2 separate regions of the Homo sapiens genome follow, and region 2 is linked to region 1. The links come from fine-mapping of genetic effects on gene expression. A gene starts in region 1. The other region holds a variant in brackets. All regions are shown on one strand. Distances are from middle to middle. Region 1 holds the start of KY (kyphoscoliosis peptidase). Region 2 has its middle 22 kb from the start of KY.

Region 1 (5,378 bases):
CACTTCCAGCAGAAGGCCCTTCCAGCAGAAGGGCCACTCGTTACGGATTACTCCATCCTCTGCATTGCAACAATAATTGAGCTTTGATCTTTTCTGACATGGAGCCTAGGCCCTCTTTTATATAACCAAGGAAGATCCACTCTCCAGTGGAGGATCTGGAGTGTGGAGGAGAAAGGAGGAGATACCTGGAAGTGAGCAAGAGTTTGTTTTATATCTTGCACCCATGGGAGGCTTTGGAACAAGCTGGTCTTATTGGGCATTTTCCTCCCTTAGGCTGTTTTTCGAGGAAAGGGTCTGCAGGCTGGCTTTGCCTGGGGTCTCCTGAATATCATCTCTGCCCACCAGGCATCAAAAGCCATGCACTTTTCCTCTTCTCTGCTCTGGTTGTGAATAAGTGACACAGATCTCTACACTGTCATTCATAGCATCGGTGAGAAACGGCCATCAGAAAAATATTTGGAGAAAAAGTTCAGCAGAAAGGGCCCAGCCATTAGGGGTCTTTTTTTCTCTGTCATAGTCACTAGTGTGCATACATGAGTCTGGAGCCATGGCGAGTTTGTGCTAGGTGTTGGGCACCTCTCAGGGCAGTCCTGATGCCTGGTGTTTCCTGGGCTTCTCTGCATTCTTTGCCCTTTCTAGTGTCAGAGCCTTTAGAAGTGATGTGATCAGAGAGGATTGGGAGTAGGGGACTCGTGGGCTGACCTGGAACTAGGCCTCGCCACACACTGGAGAAGGCATTCTGGACTGTGGTACATGTATTCAGAGCAGTCTCATTTCTATCAAGAAGTTGATGCCCTCTGTTGACTTTCTAACTACAAATACCCTGGGCAGGCCATTTCCCCTTCTCCCAAGAGTAGGTCTGATAACTAAAGAGCCAACGAATCCAAACAACTCCTGCTTCAGTCAGGAATCAGCCCTGAGACTAGAGCGCCTGTCAACATACTCAGCCCTCTAGATTCTGTTTCTTTCCCCTGCCTGCCTTCCCAAGAGGTTCCCAGGGCTCTGGAGGCAGCTCCAGCCTATGTGGCTGGTAGTGGCAAGGCCATCCACAGCAGCATTACTTAAGCAAGGCAGGTGGAAGGTGGATGTTCAATGAGCACAGAGGCTCTGGGGACAGAAGAACCAAGGGCAGAGCAGCAGCAGGAATTCCAAGGAGCTCCAGAGCTGGAGGGGAGGAGAGAGGCAGAAGTCATTCTCCTGCATGGGCTGTCAGGCCTAACTCCTAAAGAACTGGCCCGCAGTCCGCCTAGTGCATCCTCACACCAGCCTCGGAGACAGCTTGCCATCCAGGACCCTGAGGTTCTCTGGCTTTTCAGGGGCTTATTTAACCTCCATTATCATCCCTCTGTACTCCATTCACATTGTGTTCTGTCGTCTGGAGAACAGAGAGGCCCGGATCCTGCTTTCCACAATCACTCTATAAACAGTCACTTTATTTTACCAATCTACAACTTACAAATTTACCCAGAAAGTGTGTAGGACAAGTAAAATTGATGGATAAGTTCAAGTGGAGACAGCAGGTTTCAAATCTTACCCTATCCAAACCTGCGTTCCTTTTACGCCTTTCATGCCTTCCATCTATAGGAGGCTGGGAGAAAGTCTCAAGAAAGGAGAAACTGAGGCTGTAAATTGTGCAAGGCCACACAGGGAGCTCCCCATCTAAAAGTCTGACTCAGCCCAAAGGTTTCCCAGCGTCCCCTGTGCCCTGCAGTGTGCTGTGGGGGGGAGCAGGCCTCTGCTACCCATGAGTCAGCCCTGAGGCTCTGGCCGCCTTCCTCCAGGGTATCTTCCAATCTTGCTCTACACCCGTTAGGGAGTGGCTGGGAGGAAAAAGACTCCCAGGGGTGACGGAAGCACCCACAGGCCTGCACAGGGAGTGAAACTGGGGCAATCACGGGGCTGCGCGTTGCCACGGGACTGCGCGTTGCCACGGGACGCCGGTGCCACTGCGGGGAAGCGACGGCAGCCATGGGGGAGAGGGTCGGGTTCGCTGACCTCGTTCGGGGGAGCAATGGGCGCCCCCCGGCGGGCAGGCCCTTGTGGCAAGGAGGCCAAGGTGCCGGGGGACCCGGGGACCCGGGTCGGGCGCGCGTTACCTCCTCCGCGCTGCAGCAGCGAGCTCGGGTTCGCCTGCTGGTCTGAGAGCGTACCCTGTGCGGCGCGCCGCTTCTCCGAGTGCACGATCAGCAGCATGTCGATAGATACAGCGTTGATGTCCTTCTTCAGCTCCATGATGCCGCCTCCTTTCCGACCTGGGCGCCGCGGCCGCACGCTAGGCTGCTTGCGCTGCAAATGGCCCCGTGCGCGCAGCTGCCCCACACGGGAGAGGGCGAGGGCGCGGAAGAGGGCGCTCCCCCGCCGCTGGAGCCGCAGGGCGCTGCTTTTCGCTGACTCTGCCAAACACGCCATTAGGGCCCGCCTGGGAGGGCGCTACCCTAATGAAGCGGCTCTAAGTCACCTTTGAAAGGAAATCCCCGGGCCCAAGCCTTGACCTGCACCGGGGCCATAGTCAGCAGGGGCGGCCGGTCCAGAGCCTCCCTCCCTGCGCCCCTGCCTCCCGCCCGGTGCACTTGAAGCGCTGGTCCTGGGCTCCAGGGCTTCTCTGGCTGAGCGCTGCCTCATCCCCACGGTCTCCGGAGGGTTCTCGAGAGGGCTGGAGCCGACCTCCCACGAGAAGCCCCTGGCAAATACAGAAATCGCACAGTGCTGTCAACATTGAGAGTAGATTCAGGAAAAGGAAAGACAGCAAAGGGGCTCCAGATTGAATTGCAAGATGTGCAGAGATTGTCCAAGTTTTGGCCTCGACCTCACTCCTTCCCTGGGTTGGTTTTGGAGGTTGACAGCTCTCTCTCCCTAGGAGGGAGTTGGGTGGGGTGTTGGAGTCAGGAGCTCCCCCCAGTTACGGCCCCTGTAGAACTTGGAACATGCCCATTGAGTATCAAGCTAACGATCCTCTTTGATCTGAAACGAAAGTCTTAAAGTCTCGGTTCGTTCTAGAAGCCTGGCTCCTGCCCTGTGGGGAAGGAGGGAGGGGGAGAGGAGGAGGCTGGGGCACAGGGAGCTGGACCTGAGAAGCCTTCTATTTTTAGCCCGGCCTGGCCTGCCCAGCCAACAGCAGCAGGGGTTTGGCTGTAGGTCTCAGGAGTGTTTACATAGGCTTCTGCCTGGTACCCCTGGGCACTACGGGCCCACCCTGCTGGGGGCGTTCCCCTAATTCGAGTTTCTACTGTTAATAAATGCACCCCCACATGGAGGCCTTTGCTCTGGGAGCCCTCCCCGCATTGGAGTGTATGGACCCCACCTTGTAGCATGGTCCTGAGAGTTCCCAGATCCTCCTTGGAGCAGCCTGTGTCACACAGACTGCATTCCAGTACCAGCTCCATCACTTCCTGGCTGTGTGACCTTGGACCAGCCATTTTCCCTCCACCTTCTCACCCTTATCACTGGGTTGATAAAAATTTCTCACATGGCTGTTGTGAGAATGGCATGAATGTAAGGCGCCTGGTGTATAGAAAGTGGTCTTCATATGGTAGCTGTCATTCTTACTTCATTTTAAGGGTGAGGAAAGGGAAAGATGGAGTGACAAGTGACTGATGGAGCAGAGAAGCAGGAGAGATGTCACAGCCACACTCTGAGATTCTGAAGGTCTTCCTCCAATAACAGTGGCTCAGAGTTTGGTTCCGTGTAAAGGCTGTTGTCTTATTGCATTACCAGCGCCCCCCCCCACCACCCCACCCCCTGACTCACCCACTGGGCATCTGATGGAAGGAGAGGTTGTTGGCTTCCAGTAATGTTGAACTGGAGTCCCTAGAGAGCTGAGGCCATAGACAGGCAAGTGGAGATGGCTGACTTCCAAGGCAGGTTTCCTTCTGCTAAAGTGAGTCTTGTCCTGTCTGTATGTGTGCAGGTACACACACACACACACACACGCGCGCGCGCACACCTGGGAGGCTGGCTAACACTTACTCTCTATGTGGCTGGGGAAGTAAGAACTATGCATTATGCAAAGCTCTTGGGGTGTTGGAGATTGCTGAGGCAGATCTCAGGTCCCAGAGTCCCCCCAACTACCCTGGGCCAGTCAGTGTTGTCTAACTCCTTCAAGTGTCAGGTTGTCTGAAGTGCTGAAATCAACTAGAAGCCTGTGTACAGCACCCTTGGTTGCCGGATGGGTCTGAGTGTTGGTGATGGTGGGGGGAGCTGAAGTCCCCTTTCCTTACACTTGCATTCCCATCTCCCAACCCTTGCTCTCCTGCTGGAAAGTGTCATTGCTAGGAACTCGCAAACTCTGGTGCCCCCTCCCAGAACTGCCTCTGGAGAAGGATATTCTGACCTGGGAATGTGCTGCCAGGGGTCTGGGGAAATGGTGTGGAGGCCTCCTGTCTCTCTGCTATGTCTGAAGACAGCTTCGGAGCAGGGCCTCTCATCCTTGGCGCTATTGACATTTTGAGCCAGATAATTCTCTTTGGTGGGGCTTTCCTGTACACTGTGGGATGTCTAGCAGCATCCCTGGCCTCTACGCATTAGATGCCAATCACATTCACTTCCCTATTGTGAGAACTTAGAATGTCTCCAGACATTGACCAATGTTTCCTTTGGAAAGAATTGCAGTGTGAACACCGCTTTGGAGCAAACTCCTGAAATTGGAGTCACCTCGACTGCTCTGGGAGATGCTGCTGCCCCTGGATCCTGATGGTGCCTGACACCTAGACCCTCTTCTCAGAGGTTTACCCATGGCCATCAGTCCAACAGCCTAGCTTCTGGGGCCTGCCAGGAGCATAGATGAGATGCTCTTCTTAATGCCAACTCTATTCCCATCCTTGGCCTGGGTTGACTTAGCTGCTTCCCCTCTTCCCCACTATCCATTCTTGGGCTGAGAGGGAGACACCATGGGGAAGGTGATGTGGCTGAAGGCATTTGGATGTATCAGGAAAGGGGAAGGAGAGACAAGAGAACACTGAGGTGGCTGGGATATCATTCAAGTAGAGGCTGTATCCCTTCTGCTCAAATCCTCCCTCCAGCTGCTCACACAATCAACGGGACAAATAACAGAACGCTCAGCCTGCAAATCTCCAGACCCATCTCTTCCTTTTTCCCTACCAAACCCACACATGCTTCAACAGAAACCATGTCCTCTACACCCCAAACACACCATACTAGCCCCTCCATCCTGCTACCATCTTGAATAAAAAAGATGCAAGGCTCTCTGTATTCCGACCTAAATAATTAATCTGCATCCTTGTCTTAGTAGCTGACAAACCAGGGGCTTTCTCCATTCTTGAGCAAAACTTTATTTTAATCAAAATGAGTGGGAATTCCAGGATACAGAAAGACAAAGGACAGTCAAAATAGTTGTATTGTCACCTTTGTCAAATTCAACA
Region 2 (5,378 bases), 21 kb after region 1:
GCCCTTCTGAATGGGATTAGTGCCCTTTTAAAAGAGACCCTGAGAGCTCCCTTGCCCTTTCTGCAATGAGAGGTTATGGTGAAAAGTCTACAGCAACCTGGAAGAGGGCCCTCATCAGAACCCCACCATGCTGGGACCCTGATCTCAGACTTTCAGCCTCTAGAACTATGAGAAATAAATTTCTGTTGTTTATATGCCGATCAATAATAATTTACTATAGCAGCCTAAATTAAGATAATAATCCAAATCAAATATGATTTTTGAGGCTCTCTGAGCTATTTTCACAGAAAGTTTTACAAGCTATTTGCCTCCAATATGAACACACTCTTCCCCAAACCACACACAGTCCCTTTGCATATAAAATTTAAATTTTGTTAAAAAAAGAGTTGCTAGCTATGGGGGTCCCTGATTTGATGAAAACACTTGAGGAAATGCTCTGGGGGAATCTTAGATGGTCATAGTCAGAGCCTCCAGTGTGAAGAGAACAGAGTGGGGATCAATGGAGAAAATAAGGCAGTGTCCCATCATTGCAAGGAAGTTCCTTATGGAGTCAGCCAGCCATGGAACAAGAGATGATGCTGTTGAGAATAAATGGTAAATTCCTAACTCTCACATTAGCAGGACAGTGAAGTCTGATGACACCATGGCTGGCTGTGGATGAATGGACTACTTAGAAACTGAATATAAACTGTTACCGTAATTTTGGAGAGCTATTTGGCAACATCTGATAAAACTGAAAAGTGTATACCTCATGAACCAGGTCAGATCATGTACATGGTTGCTTATCACAGCAGAGTTCATAAAGCTTAAAAATGGGGAAATGTCTATGGCAGGAGGTATTGTATAAATCATGGAGTCCTCCCATACTGTATACTGTAGAGCAGTTACAATGCACTAGATCTACATGGAAACGTGTGGATGAACATCTACAACACAAAACTGAATGAATTAACTACAGTTAGAAGGATATTATAGTATGACATCATTTAGCTATAGTTTTAAAACATGCAAAACAATATATATTGTCTACAGATACATACATTTGTGGTAAAAGTCTAAAAAATGAATAGAATGCACCACAACTTCAGAATAGTGTTTCCTCTGGGGCGGAAGGGAGAAGAAGGCATTGGAGAGGGATTCATAGAGATCATCAATACATGTGTCATATTTACTTTTTAAAAAAGATCTGACTACACAGCCATAAAAAAGAATGAAATCATGTCCTTTGCAGCAACATGGATGCAGCTGGAGTCCATTATCCTACGCGATCTAACTCAGAAACAGAAAAGCAAATACTGCATATTCTCACTTATAAGTGGGAGCTAAACAATGGCACACATGGACATAAAGAGGGGAACAATAGACACTGGGGCCTCCAAAAGAGGGCAGGGTGGAAGCGGGCTGAGGGTTGAATGATCACCTATTGGGTACGATGTTCATTATTTGGGTAATGGGTGCATTAGAAGTTCAATCCCCACCAGTACTGCAATATACCCATGTAACAAATGTGCACATGTATGCCTTATCTAAAATGAAATAAAATTAAAAGAAAATCTGAAGCAAACATAGAAGAAAAATGTTGACCTTTGTTCACTTCCAGTGGCGAGCATGTGGGTATTTGTGATATTACCAACTGTACTTTTCTGTATGCTTGAAACATTTCATAAGGAAAATAATAAATGTGCAAAGACATAGGAAAATCCAGAGTCCTGCTTTTAAGGAAGTGTTTAAACAAAAAGCTGCAGGAGTGTCTGCTGCTGGGTACAGTGAACAAATGCTTTCTACACAGGGGTGGCAGAGTGGTGGGGGTGGCCTGAATGAATGAAAAATCAGAAAAAGGGTTTGAGCCCTTGCCCTGACTCTCATGGCTTTTGGGACATTTTAGTTGGTGGCGATGTCCACCAACTGAGCTGTTTTCTCATCTGTGAAATGGGTTGCTGTGAGCCAAGGGAGGCAATGTGTGTGGATGTAGGTGGGGAGCAGTGAGTCACACACAGTGAGGGTGAGGACCTGGGCTGGCCAGAGCTGTCCTCCAGAAACCTGCAGTGATAGATGGTTGTCAAGTAATACCTCAACAAGTGTGTAGGGTGGAGTGTTGAAACCA[A/G]TTTCAAAAATGACTCTCCTACCTCTCCAAGGACCGCCAAACCCCATCTGTAAAAAATGGGGTACACTGATTATATCATTGGCCACCAGAGTCAGATTGAATTCATACTATCACCCAGTCACTGCCATGTGTTCATGTGTCACCTCTCTGAGTTTTTTCTTGCAGCTAAAAATGAGTAATAATAGTAGCATCTGCCTCGTTAGGTTATTCTGAGGAATAAATGAGATTTCACATATAAAGTGCTTAGCACAGACCTCAGCACTTAGTAAGCTGTCAGAAAATGTTAACTGGTTATTGTGACCATTGTTACTTCTGGGTCTGAGCCTAAAAACAACTACCAAGAAACATTTTGCTAGCTTAGATTCAGTGATATTTATGACTTGAAAATAAGGCCAAGGAGAATATGGTTGCTAAATTCAAAATTGTCATGATTCTGGTTTATTTTCTTCCTAATTAGATATTCTGTAGCTTTTATAATTATGCCTCTGAAAAAGGGGGAAAGGCAAATAATCAGAAATCTGGCAAAAGGCAGCTGATTTTGCACCTCTTTCTTGAACACTCTCATTCCGGGGGCTCCCAGTTTCGTCATAAATGGCTTCTCTTCCCAATCTCTCCCTTGCCTTCTCTCCATGCTGGCTCTTGTCTTCCTCTTACTGTTGGTCCCTTCTGTCCTGGCTCTCTACGTACTCATTCTGTCTTCTGGCTTCAGCTCCAATTATGTGTTGGATACCTGGCCCCTTGCCCCAGCCCAAGCCTCCATCAACCATTGCCTGGACCATGTGGTAGCTCCCTCCCCATCTCGCTCCACAGCACAGCAGAGTGAGTGTTTAGCAATGCAGCTCTAATCATGTCATGTCCTGGCTTACGTTGTTTCAATAGTTTCCCTTTACTTATAGGATGAAGCTCCAATCCTTGGTAGGACCTGTAAGGCCCTGCATGGGTGGTCTTAGCATCAAGCCTGAGCTCTCCCACCCTTCATAGTACTTCCACCCCTCCGTGAAAACTCCAGGATTCAACTGCCCTGAATGAGGTGGATCACATTCTCTTTTACTCTTCATCAGGTCTTCAGGAGTAAATTTTGTGCCTTTGTTCATACCTAAAGACTGTAATCATTAAGGAGATACCACCATCCATCAAGAACCTCGTCCCAGAACCCCTGACCTCTGTTAACTCCAGTGCTTTTCACTCATCCTGTCCTAGAACTACCTCCTCTCTGAGATCTTCTCCAACCACAACCTGACGTCCCCCCTCCAACTGTCTCATGGCCTCATATAGAAGCCATTGGACTTCCTGGAGACCTCCAGTCCTGAAGTCCCACCCTCCTCCCTGGCCATCAGCTCCTTTTGGCCTCTCTTCCTTCCCTGCAATGCGTGGTGCCTTCAGTGGTCCATCAAAATGGCTCTCTCACTACCTCCCAGGATTCTCTCATATCCCTCCTTCTGCCACACACGCCTGACAAAACATCAACCCTGGCTCAGTGTGGCAGCCAGCCTGGAGAACAGAACATGGCCCGCCCTGAGGGTCAGGACCTCCAGTAGCAGCTGGGCCCTTGGTGCTGCCCTTTGTCCTTTTGTGTACCCTGGATTGTCTCATCTCCATTCTTCTCTGGAACACCTGAAACCTTCATCCCTTTCCTTCTGAGTCCTCAATTTAATCCCTTCCCCATCCCCTCCACCAGCAGATGACCTCATCTCCTACTACTCCTGCAGACCACCTACAGACTTATGCACAGGCACACCATTCTCTCCCTTCTGCAGGACAACCCCAAATCTGGGCTCATTGGCCACATTCTGTGGTGAGCACCCGTATTTTTGCTACCTGTGGTCTATCAATCACTCTTCCGGTAAAACAGAGCCCCAAGGTTTATTTGGGGGCCCACCATCTCTTACTCTGATCCCAGGTTTTCCTGAGGTTAATCCTATGTCCAGGTCCATGTCTAAACTAATCAGCAAAATTCATTCCATTGGACACAGTGATTAGCTTGTGGTTGTGCACATGAACCAATTTGGATCAATGAGAACCTGACCCTGACTTTTAGTGTACTGTTGGGGTGAGGTGTACTGTCTTTCCTACAGAACACAAACTTCCAGCTGTAGAAAGTCATCTCATAGTGTCAAGAAGTGAGTCTGTCATCAACAAAATATAGGCAAACCAAATCTGGGAACATATAAAAAGATAATACATCATGAAGAAGTGGGATTTATTCTAGGAATGCAAGGTTGGCTCAACATAAGAAAAGCAACAACTGAAATATACCATATTAATAGAATAAGGACAAAAACCACATGATCATCTTAACTGTTAGGAAAAAGCATTTGACAAAATCTAACATTATTTCATATTAAAAACACTCGACAAACTAGGAATATAAGGGAACTTTTTTAATTTGATGAAAAAAATCCATGAATATCACACAGCCAACATAAACTTAATGGTAAAAGACTGAAAGCCTTCCCCCTAACATTTGGAACAGGACATGCATATCTGCTCTTACCATTGCTACTTTAAGAAGGTTCTTTTCAGGGAAATTAAACAAGAAAAAGAAACAAAAGGCATCCAAATTGGAAAGCAAGAAGCAGAACTAATTGAAGATGATATGATCTTATATAATAAAAATCCCAAGGAATCCATGAAAAATCATTAAATCTAATGAGTTTAATAAGGTAGCAGGAAACAAGATCAATATATAAAAATTAATCATTTTTCTTTACCTTAGCAGTGAACATTCCAAGAATGAAATCAAGAAAGTAGTTCCATTCACAATGGCATCAAAATGAATAAAATACTTAAGAATATATTCAACAGAAGAAGTACAAGGCTTGATACTTCAAAAGATCTTCAAAAGAAAAGGCCTTTAAAAATGAAAAACATTCTATATTCATGGATTGAAAGATTTCATATTAAGATCCCCAAACTGATCTACAGATTCAACACAATCCCAATCAAAACCAGCTGCCTTTTATTGTAGAAACTGGAAAATGCTGAGCATAAAATTCATATGGAAATGTAAGGGACCCAGAACAGCCAAAACAATGAAAAACAACACAATTGGAGAACTCATACTTTACAGTTCAAAACTTACCACAAAACTTCAGTAACCAATACTGTGTAGTCTGGCATATGAATAGACAGATAGATAAATGGAATAGAATCAAGAGTCCAGAAATAAACCCATACATCTATGGTCAATTGATTTTAAACAAGGGTGTCAAGACAAACAGGGAAAGAGTAATATTTTCAACAGACGATTCTGAGACAACTGGATATCCACATG

The links. PIP is the estimated chance that this variant, and not a neighbour inherited with it, causes the effect.
Region 2: its variant is the best candidate, but not a certain one, in a credible set for the expression of KY in spinal cord (GTEx, PIP 0.54).

Annotation. Positions count from the first base shown.
Region 1 is chr3:134,648,729-134,654,106 of GRCh38, forward strand. KY (kyphoscoliosis peptidase) reads right to left here and starts at 2,294. Exons shown (of 11, transcript NM_178554.6): 1 at 2,097-2,294. The coding sequence starts at 2,232. It also overlaps a transcript of CEP63 not described here.
Region 2 is chr3:134,669,954-134,675,331 of GRCh38, forward strand. It overlaps a transcript of CEP63 not described here. Among named protein-coding and RNA genes, the nearest start is that of KY, 22 kb to the left of the region's middle. The variant A/G (reference allele first, on the strand shown) is at 2,105.